Homo sapiens: one gene and its partners. The protein of the gene in region 1 interacts with the protein of each later gene in a biochemical or structural test. Each region holds a gene or a part of one and is shown in the gene's direction. Other genes may lie near its edges. The genes, in order: MAPKAPK2, ETV1 and CEP131.

Region 1 (3,748 bases):
CCTCTGCTGGGGTTCAGAAGTCTGCTATGTTGCAGCCCTGAGAGTTGATGGGAGCTGGCAGCTGCTTAGATGCTCTCCTCTCTGCCTATAGTCGGTGACCTCTTAGCCCTGTTAAGTGAAATCAGCATTTGAAAAAGAGTCCCAGCTCACCCTGCTGCTTCTCTCCCTCCACCTCAGAGAGCTCCCATTTAAATGCTTTTGGTGGGTGCTTTGACCTCACCTCACCATCTCTCCTGGCTGCTTTTGCTAAGTTCTGAGTCATGCTTCCAGTCAGAGTTGCAAGGGACTTGAAAGGTCATTTTGTCCAGCCCCCTTATTTTGCAGAAGAGAAAACCAAGGCCCAGAGTGAGGGAGTGACTTGTTCAAGGTACCATAGCCATTCACTTGGCAGAGGCAGGATTGGAACCCAGGTTGCCTGACTCCCAGTCTCAGGCTTCTTCCCACTTACTTCCTAACTGAGCCACGGGCTCAGGCACATGGCCACCTGCTGCTCCAGGGTGCTTCCAGCCTGAGGAGCTGTTCTGTCACCTCAGGCCCTGACTGACAAGAGGGGAGGTCAGCGAAGGGGGCTGGATGGGTATTTGCTGCTCCTGAGAACAGTCCCCAAAGTTGGAGGGGAACTTCAACAGTAGCTTCATGCATTTTTTTAACCACTCCCTCCCCCTTTTAAGAGAGTATTTGATAGGCACCTTACTTACTATTTTTTGTACAAGAACATGGGAATTCTATTATTTTTATTTTTATTTTTTTTGAGACAGAGTGTTGCTCTGTCGCCCAGGTTAGAGTGCAGTAGCACGATCTTGGCTCACTGCAAGCTCTGCTTCCCAGGTCCACGCCATTCTGCCTCAGCCTCCTGAGTAGCTGGGACTACAGGCGCCCGTCACCATGCCCGGCTAATTTTTTGTATTTTTAGTAGAGATGGGGTTTCACTGTGTTATTCAGGATGGTCTTGATCTCCTGACCTCGTGATCTGCCTGCCTCAGCCTGCCTAAGTGCTGGGATTACAGGTGTGAGCTACCGCGCCCGGCCTGTATTACTTCTTTGATAAGGACACCTAGTCTCAACCCACTTGTGTATTAATTAGTTGTATTCCCCGGGAGGGTTCCTCAGCTGCTTGCCGCTTCACTGTGTCATGGTGACCCTTAGGTGTTAGCTCAACAAATTTAATTAAAGACTGTATCGTTGTTCTCTGCTGTGCAACTCTGATTAGGTGAAGCATGTTACTGCTTTATAAAATATAGAATGTTGTCGTAACTTATCTCTGTGTATCTTTCCATTGCGTGGATTAGAGAAAACAAGGTCCTGTAGTTTCTTTTCCTTTCCTTTCTCCAGCATTCCTCTCTCCCTAGGTCATGGAAGTGCCACTGCGATGTGGCTTCCTTTGTTCTGGTGAAGGGGAGATGATTGGAGCCTCTCATGATTATTCTGGATGCTGTTGGAGGGAAATGCCAGAGCTCCCACATCCCCACAGTACAGGCACCATCTCCTTTCCAACACACCTCATACTGTGTACCTGTGGAGGGCAAGACAGTTAGTGTGGCTAGGTGAGAGGCAGTGTCCCAAACTGGAGTTTGCTGGAGTTGTCACAAGGTTAGGAAAATTTCATTGACCAAGCCAGCCTCTTTTATATGCAATATGGTTACAGGTAGGTAACAGTTTGCTGAATATCTATCATAAGCTTAGTTGCATGGAGGATACACATGTAAAAAATGGCCTGTAAAATTTTGAGTCAAGAAACTTATTTAGAGAAGGTGAAATTAACACATGTAGGCTAGGGCTGCACTGTCCAATCTGGTAGCCACTACCCTCACATAGCTAATTAAATTAAAATTAATTAACATGAATGGATTAAACTAAATTAAATTTGAAAAATCAGTTGCTAGCCACACTTCAAGTGTTCAGTAAACATGTGGCTAATGGCTATCGAATTGAACAATGCAGAAGAACATTTTCATCCTTGCAGAACGTTCTCCTAGACTTTGTTGGTCTGGGAGCTAAATCGTGTGGCTGGGAATAGAGGAGCTTTGAAAGAGGGGAATCTGTGGTGACTCCAGGAGCTAAGGGAGGCTCCAGCTGGGGTCAGTGGGACATGGCTGTGCCTCTGAGGAGTGAGCAAGTCTGTGAGAGGTGTGGTGACATTGGCCTGGCTAGAACTGAGGGGAGGAACAGGAGGTCAGAGTGGTCAGGGGTTGGTGGCTCCAAATTGAAGCTAACTCATCTTGTGTCAAAGCAGGCTTTAAAGTGTTTGAGGGGCATGAAGGTGTCAAAAAAGGTTAGGAATCATTGAAGATGGGCTTACAGAATTATGAGGGAAGGGTCAGGTTTGTGGTTTCAGAGATCCTGTCCCTCCTGGCCGTAGCCCTGACCCCAGCCCTGACCCCTGGCTCCTGCAGCAGGGCCCTTGGCATCCACTGAGGCAAGATTGAAGCTGGGTCAGCTCACTGTCCTTTTTTACTTGTGAATTCTGGGCTTTGACTGAGCTTGGAGACAATCTCCAGCTAAGATACGGGATCAGTGGCTGACAGGAGGGGAGAGACAAGCAGTCCCTGGGCCTTAGGGCCAAATATTGGTGGGTGTCTAGGAAACAAAAGAACCCCTTTGTGGGAGGAGGAAGGTATTGGGACCTGTGATGTTTCTGCTACTTGGGACCTGAGAGGTTGGGCCATCCATAATTGATGATTTTTCTTATGAAGCAGGTACAGGGGATTGGGAGGAGGGCCTGGAAGAGCCCAGCCTCAGAACTGCTGGAGGCAAACTTAATCCTTGGGCTAGGGGAGGGGCCAAAGCTCCTGTTAGCCAGAGCCCAGGAGTGTGCTGAGTGGGTGCCAGGAGGAATGTCAGCCAAGATGGGGAAGAGCAGGGCACAGTCGTCTGCATCTGAGCCATTGCCCAGTTCCCAAGCAGCCTTGCCATGCTCTGAGCTGGGGTTCTTCCTGGTGGCGTGATGTCTGTGGTGCAGGATTCACTCTATTCTCCTACCTTTCCTCTACTTCAGGCCCTGCCAAGTGTCATGTGAGGTCTCTTTTCCCCCTCTTCCCTGCACTGTATCTTTCCAGATGGTTCTGTGTCCTGGAGGGAGGTGGATGGGCAGAGAAGAGTTGTTCTTTGCAGGGACTGCAGCTTTTCTTGGTAATGGTTTGAGGCCCAGTGGCAAAGCAACCCACACTTCATAGTAACTTAGAACCCACACTCCCTGGTCATCTTTCTTGACTCCTTGCACATCACTGAGGAAGAAGCTGGCCTAGTGCAGAAATGTTCAGTGGCATGTCCAAGGTCTTACATGGTGTCAGCATCCGAGCCACATCTTGAGACCTGGTTCCCTGGGACCTGCTCTTGGTCTGGGCCCCTTTGGTTTTTGGTTGCTAGAAGACTGTAGACCTGGTGGAGCAAAACTGAGCTCCACTAACGCATCAGCTAGGATCTTTCCACATGGGTTACCTTGTAAATGGGGGCATTGGTGAAGAGAAGGGGCCATGTCACTGGACAGTGTAATAACGTATGGCAGTTATAGAACCCAAATCAGATTGCTGTGTACCTTTTCTAGTTTTTAGGAAAATACTGGTATTTTGTATTTTAAGATATATATATATATATATATATACACACATACACAGATATAGATATGTAGAGATGAGCTTGTTACCATGGGTTATGTGCTAGATAAGAAAGCAAAAATAAGTGCATACATAAATAGAAAGCTTCCAGTGTTTGTATGCTGCTAACAAGTTACATGACCTTGAATAGGTCA
Region 2 (3,748 bases), on another chromosome or scaffold:
TAATGAAGATTAAAGATTTGCAAATCTTATGTTTATGTCTTTGACTTGTTTTTTAGAACTCTTTCAAGATCTAAGTCAATTACAGGAAACATGGCTTGCAGAAGGTAAGGCAAAATTTGCTTTAAAAGGGGGGAAAGCAACTCTAGAAGGAGAAAGAAAAGAAGTCCTGAACTTGCTGTCTTAATATTCAGCCCAATTAATTGAGCTCTAAAAGAGCCACCTCATGTGTCATGCATACATTAGAGCCTCTGATGAGTTTGTCTTTGGGGACTCTGGGGCTGTACTACCCAGTGTCATCACAAATTACCAGGAGAAATTGCTTCCAGCTCACAATCACATCTGCTTTTGGCAAGAACTAATGCACCAAGACTTCAAGTTCTAAGCCTCTGTTCAGATTTTAATTGCAATTGATCAGGTTTATATTATTGTACCTCCAGAGACCTCCTAGAGCCAGAACCCGGCTGGCTTGCTGTTTCCTTTAGAGCAGCGCATATCATTATTTGGTGTTCTGGTGGAGGACTTTTCTGATGGCAGAAATTAGTTTCTCTGGGTTCATCAGGACGGGATGCTTCAAGATTTAAGTGCAAGTGTCTTCTTTCCACCTTGTTCACAACACAGAACGTTAGGTGTGTATCTAATGCTTAGGAAATCTATGGGTTTAAAATAAATGGGAGATATGAGGATTTTAAAAATGTTTTCCATGTGTTACTATTCATGTTATGTTTGCTGAAATTGACCTTTGCTATTTTGTCAGTTTTATTAGGATTTATTTAATAGAGCAAGGATACATTTAAAGGCATTACTTTCATTTTGAATTATTTTTTGTTAAAATTTTGTGGTGCAATCTGTTATATCTTTTATCGTATGCAACTTTATAGGAAAATGAGATTGCTTCATAAAGCTTTATACAACTTCAAAAATGCCTAATGTTGAGGGACTTCTGTTGGCATTCATAATTTGAAATTTTTCTTTTGGATTTGGCATACAAATGTGAAACATTAATTTTATGGTGTGGTTTGTGGGAAATACAAAGAGAAAAATTATAGATATTTAAGCATTGAGTGTATAACAGTATTATTTGTGTGTTCACATTATATGGGAAACATGCAAATTTTGGAACAGATTTTAAGATGGTTAAAAAGGAGAGAGTGGGTCTCTTTAAATGGAACCCAGGTGTTACTGTAGCTACTTTGAGGCAGACTGACGTGTTTTATCGGTGGTCTTGAATGCAGTTGATCAAGTTGCTGTTAGCATGTAAAATAAGTTTCTTTGTTTTGCTGATAGTCTAGTTCTCCAAAGAGCTTTTTCAATCTTTATCAATCTTTAAAGTTAAATAGCTTTCCTAATAGTCCTTTGAAAGGATGATTGTATTTATATGTTAATGAAGGTAAGACTTACTGAAAGTTTTGGCTATATTTAAGGATCATTTTGCTAGTCTGTGTAAATGAAACTTACTGCAATACATTACTTTTTATTGCAACATAAGTCATATTCAGATACAAGTTTTTCAAGGAAAATTTGCATGGAGATTCTTGTATTAACTTATGCCTATTAGTTTTGCAAAGTCAAAGGTTGTGAGAACATTACCTTTATGAGAGAATTTATTTGCTTCTCCAAAATAACTTAAAATATCTATTTTAATTGTTCTGGAAGGTTTGTTGGTTCTTAGATGTTTAAATCTCATTGATTCCAAGTCAGTGCACTTGCTGGCAGATTTTGAATGTGCATAGCAACTCTGTTCCTGGAATTTTAAAATGTGGAATCTGTGACAGACTCTTACCATTTTATAATCAGTTTCAGTACTTTTTTTTTAACTTTTGACTTACTTGTTTTGTGTCTTGTAGCTCAGATAAGTGATTGCAATAATTTATCCAAATTTATCTTTTAAAACTCTGCAGAGAATAGTCTTTCTCCGGGATTATTAACATACCTGTAAATCAAACCTGAAGATTTAGCACTACAAAAAATAATCCTAGAAAATGATCAGTGTATTTGGAAGAACATGGACCTTTACTTAGAAAAGAATTATAATTTCAATTAAGTTCAGGAATTAATCATGAGTGTTTTATATGAATTCCCAGGTGGACTACTATTTACAAACTATGGATAAGATTTCATTTTAGAATAATTTAAGCGTTTTCAAAACAGTTTACGTTAATTTATCTAATCACGATGTAAGTAAAAAGTTGTTAACGTGATGTTTAAAACCTAATAGTGAGAAAAGAGATCTTTTTAACTTCTTGTTTCTAGACTCCACTTTTTTTTTGTTTTGAGAAATTAAATATATTATTTTGCACTGATATTTTAACTTGACTTATCCCACCTCTTGAACGGTATTAGCTAAGAAGAGATCCCCAAATTACCCTAGTTTATTTGTAGTGAGATGTGTCCATTTATGTCTTTCTGGACATCCAGAAATTAAAACATTGCCAAATTGGCAGACCATGAACCGTTTACATATTTCTTTTCATAATGCTCCATAGCCAAGAAAGTGACCATGGAATTTTAAGACATCTTGACCCTTTTAAAAAAGATCATTGGCAGTTAATCAAGTTTCTCGCATGAGTTAGAATTCCACTGGGAAGTTAAACAGGTCTAAAAACCTTATTAGACATAAGAGTCAAGTTAGTTGTCATATGTCATATGATAATTGTGTTTTTGAAAAATTATAAAAGTCCTCAAATATTTGTGAAATGATATCTTAGCATGTTTAGTTTTTTTTTTTCTGTAAGACTATTCATAAATTTTACCCCAAATGCAACATATGGATTAGTCATGGGTAATTATTATGGATTATAAAATTTCTTTTATTTCTAAGGGGAAGTTGGAATAGATAAGGCAGGACTGTTTGAGGGTTGGGATGGGACCAGTATTTTCAGTTCAGTAAAGTCCTCTGTAAAAATATACTTGCATTCTACCAAGAAAGTTAATTCCCATACAGAGATTTAAATATGTTGGTGGAGAATATAACTTTACATTAATATCATTTCCCAAGAAATAACACTGCAATTTAAAGGTTTTTTTTTTAACATCTAAACACAGTTTAAAACAATTATCTTATTCTGAAGAAAACTGCAAAGTTAATGTTTTCAGTAACCACAGTAGTTAAAAAAAAAAAAAGTCAGGGAATATGCCAATTTTAAAATGTTGCCATAGTCACTTTATGTTATAATTTTACTATGTGCAATTCTTTATTGATTCTTTGTCTTTTAAATTAGACTGCTACTGACAGAAAGGCAATTGCAATTATTTGATCCCATGAAATAATGAGTTTAAATATCAATTCTATCAACATCATGGTGATGTCTTATTCTTAACAACCTGAAAGTCATAGTTAAAATGGAACCTCTTGTGTATCCAGAACAAAAATAGAAAGATGTAAAAAATTAAGACAGGATTGTATTCTTCCAAATTTGCTTCTTAAAGCTCACCTACTAACACAACTTAAAGGGAAATAATAATTTTCAGTATATATCTGATGTAAATGTGTAGCTGCTCTCTTGACTGTTATTTTGTTTCCGGTCTAGATGTTCTTTCAGGTTCACTTTCATCAACAATATTCTCTGTCTTCAGGGTAAAATGTTTTCCAGTGGTTTTGTATTGAGTCAAGTTTAGTGCTGCCTCCACACTTCGAGTAGGAGTTTTATCTGCAAGAACAACCTTTCTACAGCAAAGCTTATTACATCATACGAATAAGGGTTTTTTCCTTTTGGTTTTATGTGACCTTCAAACAACAGTCAGGTCAACT
Region 3 (3,748 bases), on another chromosome or scaffold:
CTGGGCAAAAATGCGAGACTCTGTTTCAAAAAAATAATAATAAATAAATAAATAAATAAGTAAACAAATAAAACCAATCCCTGACAATACCAAGAGCTGAGGAGGATGGGGAGCAACTGCAACACCTGTGGCACTGGTGGGAGCGTAGAGCTGTACAACTTCTTTGGAAAATAGCTTAGTAGGCCGATGTGGTGGCCCACGCCTGTAATCCCAGCACTTTGGGAGACCGAGGTGGGTGGATCACCTGAAGTCAGCAGTTCAAGACCAGCCTGGCCAATATGACAAAACCCTGTCTCTACTAAAAATACAAAAATTAGCCTGGCATGGTGACATGTGCCTGTAATACCAGCTACTCGGGAGGCTGAGGCAGGAGAATTGCTTGAGCCCAGGAAGTGGAGTTTGCAGTGAGCCAAGATCATGCCATTGCACTCCAGCCTGGGCGACAGAGGGAGACTCCATCTCGGAAAAAAAAGGAAAAAAAAGAAAAAGAAAATAGCTTGGCGGTTTCCTTTTTTTTTTCTTTTTCTTTTTTTTGAGATGGAGTCTTGCTCTGTCGCTCAGGCTGGAGTGCAGTGGTGATCTCCGCTCACCGCAATCTCTGCCTCCTGGGGTCAAGCGATTCTCCTGACTCAGCCTCCTGAGTAGCTGGGATTATAGGCAGACGCCACCAGGCACGGGTAATTTTTTTGTATTTTTACTAGAGACGGGGTTTTGCCATGTTGGCCAGGGTGATCTCGAACTCCTGACCTCAGGTGATCCGCCCACCTCAGTGTCCCAAAGTTCTGGAATTACAGGTGGGACCCACTGCGCCCGGCCGGCAGTTTCTTATAAACAATCATTTGATCCAGCAACCCCACTCCTGGGTATTTACACAAGAGAAATGAAAAGTTGTGTCCACACAGAAGCCGATGAGTGAATGTTTATGGCAGCGTCATTCATAATTGCCAAGCACCAGGAACAATCTCTGCGTCCTTCATTTGATGAATAAAACCATCAATAAATAAAACCATCTGAACCGGTGGTTCACACCGGTTACAGGATACCACTCAGCAATAAAGAGGAACCAGCATGAATCTCAAAATGCGAAGTGGTAGAAGCCAGACCCACAGGCGCGCTGCGCGACATCCCTTTTGTGTGACATTCTGGAAAAGGCTGCCTCTAGGGATGGAGAACAGAGAGAACTGAGCAGCCGCCACCAGCAGTCAGCAGGTACGGGATCCGGAGGGAGAATGTTCTGTAACTAAAGTTACACAACTCCACTGCACACCAAAAAATGTGGATTTTACTGAAACCAAACTTTTTATTTTACAGAGCACTGGACTTTTTAAAAAGCGGGGGCAGGGGAGACCAGTGTGCTGTGACTTTTAGGGGAAGGATGGCTTCCCTGGAGAGGACCTGGGCGGAATCCCCAGGGCTCCCGGAGAGAGGGGGAGTCACAGAGCGGCTACGCACGGGGCGCAGCGTTAAAACTTTGGAGAAGGAAAAAAAACAACAAAGCAGCGCGAAGGGAAGGAGGTCAGGGAGGTTAGCAAGGCGCCCACACGCCCTCGCAGTCGTACTGAGTAACGAGGGGAGTCGCGCACGTGGGTGGGGACAGAGCGGCCTAGGACACTGGGGGAGCCCCGGGCCGCGGGAGTGCGGCGGCCTGGGGGTGTCGGGGAGCCGAGCCGAGGCCGCGTGCTCCTCGCGCCCTCCCTGGTGTCTCCTCCCCAGGCCCTGCGTGCCCCGCCCACACCTGCCTTGCCCCGCCCACATCTGCCTCGCCCTACTCGCCCATCACACCCCCACCTCACGCCCCGCCCACAACCGCTGGGGCCCCGCCCCTGCCCGGCCAGCTCCTCCCGCCGCCCTCGGTCCCCCGCCCCCTATATGACCCGCCCCTTTCCAGCCGCGTCCAATCGGCCGCTCTCTGTAGTCGCGTCCCTCAGCCATCCGCCGCTCCTCCCACGCTTGAACTTCCCGAAGGACAGCCGAGCGGCCCAATGAGCTCCCGGGACGGCCTGAGCGGGAGCGTGAAGGGCCAATCCGGAGTCGGCGCGCGCAGGAAAGGCGGGCCGGCGTGACGGGCTGGGGAGGTGGTGCCAGGCTGGTTGCTAGCTGCCGCCGCTGCTCACCCCGGCCGTCCGGCCGCTTCATTGTCACCGGGCCTCGGGGCAGTGTTGGGGGTGGCGGGGCGCCAGGTCGCCGACCCGAGGTTTGGGCGCGACTGGTTCCGCATCCCCTCCCCGCCGGCCGAATCTGCAGGCCCCGCGCGCCAGGCAGGCTTCGCGGCTGCGCCCCCGGCCCGCGCAGGTGAGGGGGGCCCGGGCAAGGGAGGGGGTTGCAGGGCGCACGGAGGTTGGAGGGGTCCGGAGCCCGCGCAGGTGGGAGGCCCTGGTCCAGTGATGAAGTGATGGGGATCCGGGGCACGCACAGGTGAGTGGGGGGATCTGGTGCCCGCGCAATTGAAGGCGGGATCCGGGGGAAGTGAGGGGGATCCAGGGTGCGCACAGGTGAGGGAGGTCCGGGGCCCGCGCAGGTGAAGACAGGCTCGTGCCTGAGGGTGTGGGTCCCCACCTCCATCCCCTCCACCCTCTCCACCTCCCTCCACTCCCCTCCGGTCCCCAGGACAACATGGAGTCCAGTCCCGGCATCTCTGGCCCGGCTGCCTTAAGCCCTGGGGAAAATGGGGAGATGGGAGCTGCCCTGAGGACAAGTGGAGGGCTCTGCTCTGCGCGTGGGCTCTGGCCTCTCTGTCCAGGGTCAGGGTCAGGGTCAGGGTCAGCCCACCCTGGGAACCAGGTCCTGGCGCTGGTCATCAGTCCCCGCCCCTTCAGGTCCTGGGAGGGACACAGTTTTATCCAAGATGTAGTGGCCTCCCAGGCCTCCCTTCTTCTGGCTTGGAGGTTTCCATGGAGAGGCCCCGTTCGCCATCCCAGAGCCGCTTGCAAGTGTGGCTGGGAGAGCAGAGTCCTGGGCTCCAAGGGCTTGCATGGGTCCAGCCAGGGGTGGACAGTGCCCTGCAGGAGGAGGGTGTTAAGTTTCTTCCGCACAGCCGGAAGTGCATAACTGAGGACTGGGACCTGGTCAGTGGCAGGGTCAGCCTCTAGGGAGTAGGGGTATCCATCGCTCCGTGGAAGGGACCTTGGGGGACCTGCTGTGGGGTGCCGGGCTGAAGGAAGCCCAGGGTGACCTTGGGCGATAGGCTGGGTGCCTGCTGGCCTACTGGAGGCCACCGTGGCAGGGAGGTAATTCTCGAGGTTGGTCCCTGGCGCCAGCTTCTCCCGTTCATCTACGGGTTCAGCTGAGTGCCTTTCCCTGCAGGTGCTGGGGTTGCTCAGGAGCCACACAATTCATAAACCAACTGTGTGCGGCCACAGGAAGGGAGTCCGAGCCGGATGGGGAGTGAAGAGTGATGGGTGCTCAAGGAAGGCCTCTGAGTGCAGGGAGGGAGTGTCCTGAGACCTAGAGGCAGGGGACTGGCCGGGGCCAAGCTGGCTGAGTTTGAGGAGAACCAGGGAGGCTGTGTTGGCTAAAGCCACAACAAAGGGGCACAGCAGGGGAGCTGGCGAGGTCACAGAGAGTACAGGGCCAGATCTTGCAGGAGTTGGATGTGTAGACTTTATTCTCTGTGCCTAGGAAGCTGTTGCAGGGTTTTTGGCAGGGGCACATGCACGAGCTGAGACCCGTTCAGAAAGATCAGAAAGACTCGTTCAGAAAGAGGTGCCATGTGGGGACGGGCTGGGGGCCGGCAGGGTTTGCTCTGAGA

Evidence for each region.
Region 2: of the proteins of MAPKAPK2 (region 1) and ETV1, one has a biochemical effect on the other in vitro, tested with the Homo sapiens proteins (one study listed by BioGRID).
Region 3: of the proteins of MAPKAPK2 (region 1) and CEP131, one has a biochemical effect on the other in vitro, tested with the Homo sapiens proteins (one study listed by BioGRID).

The regions. Positions count from the first base shown.
Region 1 is NC_000001.11:206,687,905-206,691,652, forward strand, and holds part of MAPKAPK2 (MAP kinase-activated protein kinase 2), read left to right. Parts: intron 1-3,748. UniProt on the Homo sapiens protein: Stress-activated serine/threonine-protein kinase involved in cytokine production, endocytosis, reorganization of the cytoskeleton, cell migration, cell cycle control, chromatin remodeling, DNA damage response and transcriptional regulation.
Region 2 is NC_000007.14:13,982,994-13,986,741, reverse strand, and holds part of ETV1 (ETS translocation variant 1), read left to right. Parts: intron 1-56; coding exon 57-104; intron 105-329; exon of another isoform or gene 330-565; coding exon of another isoform or gene 566-626; intron 627-3,748. UniProt on the Homo sapiens protein: Transcriptional activator that binds to DNA sequences containing the consensus pentanucleotide 5'-CGGA[AT]-3'. Required for olfactory dopaminergic neuron differentiation; may directly activate expression of tyrosine hydroxylase (TH).
Region 3 is NC_000017.11:81,221,313-81,225,060, reverse strand, and holds the start of CEP131 (centrosomal protein of 131 kDa), read left to right. Parts: upstream 1-2,095; 5' UTR 2,096-2,292; exon of another isoform or gene 2,293-2,415; intron 2,416-3,748. UniProt on the Homo sapiens protein: Component of centriolar satellites contributing to the building of a complex and dynamic network required to regulate cilia/flagellum formation.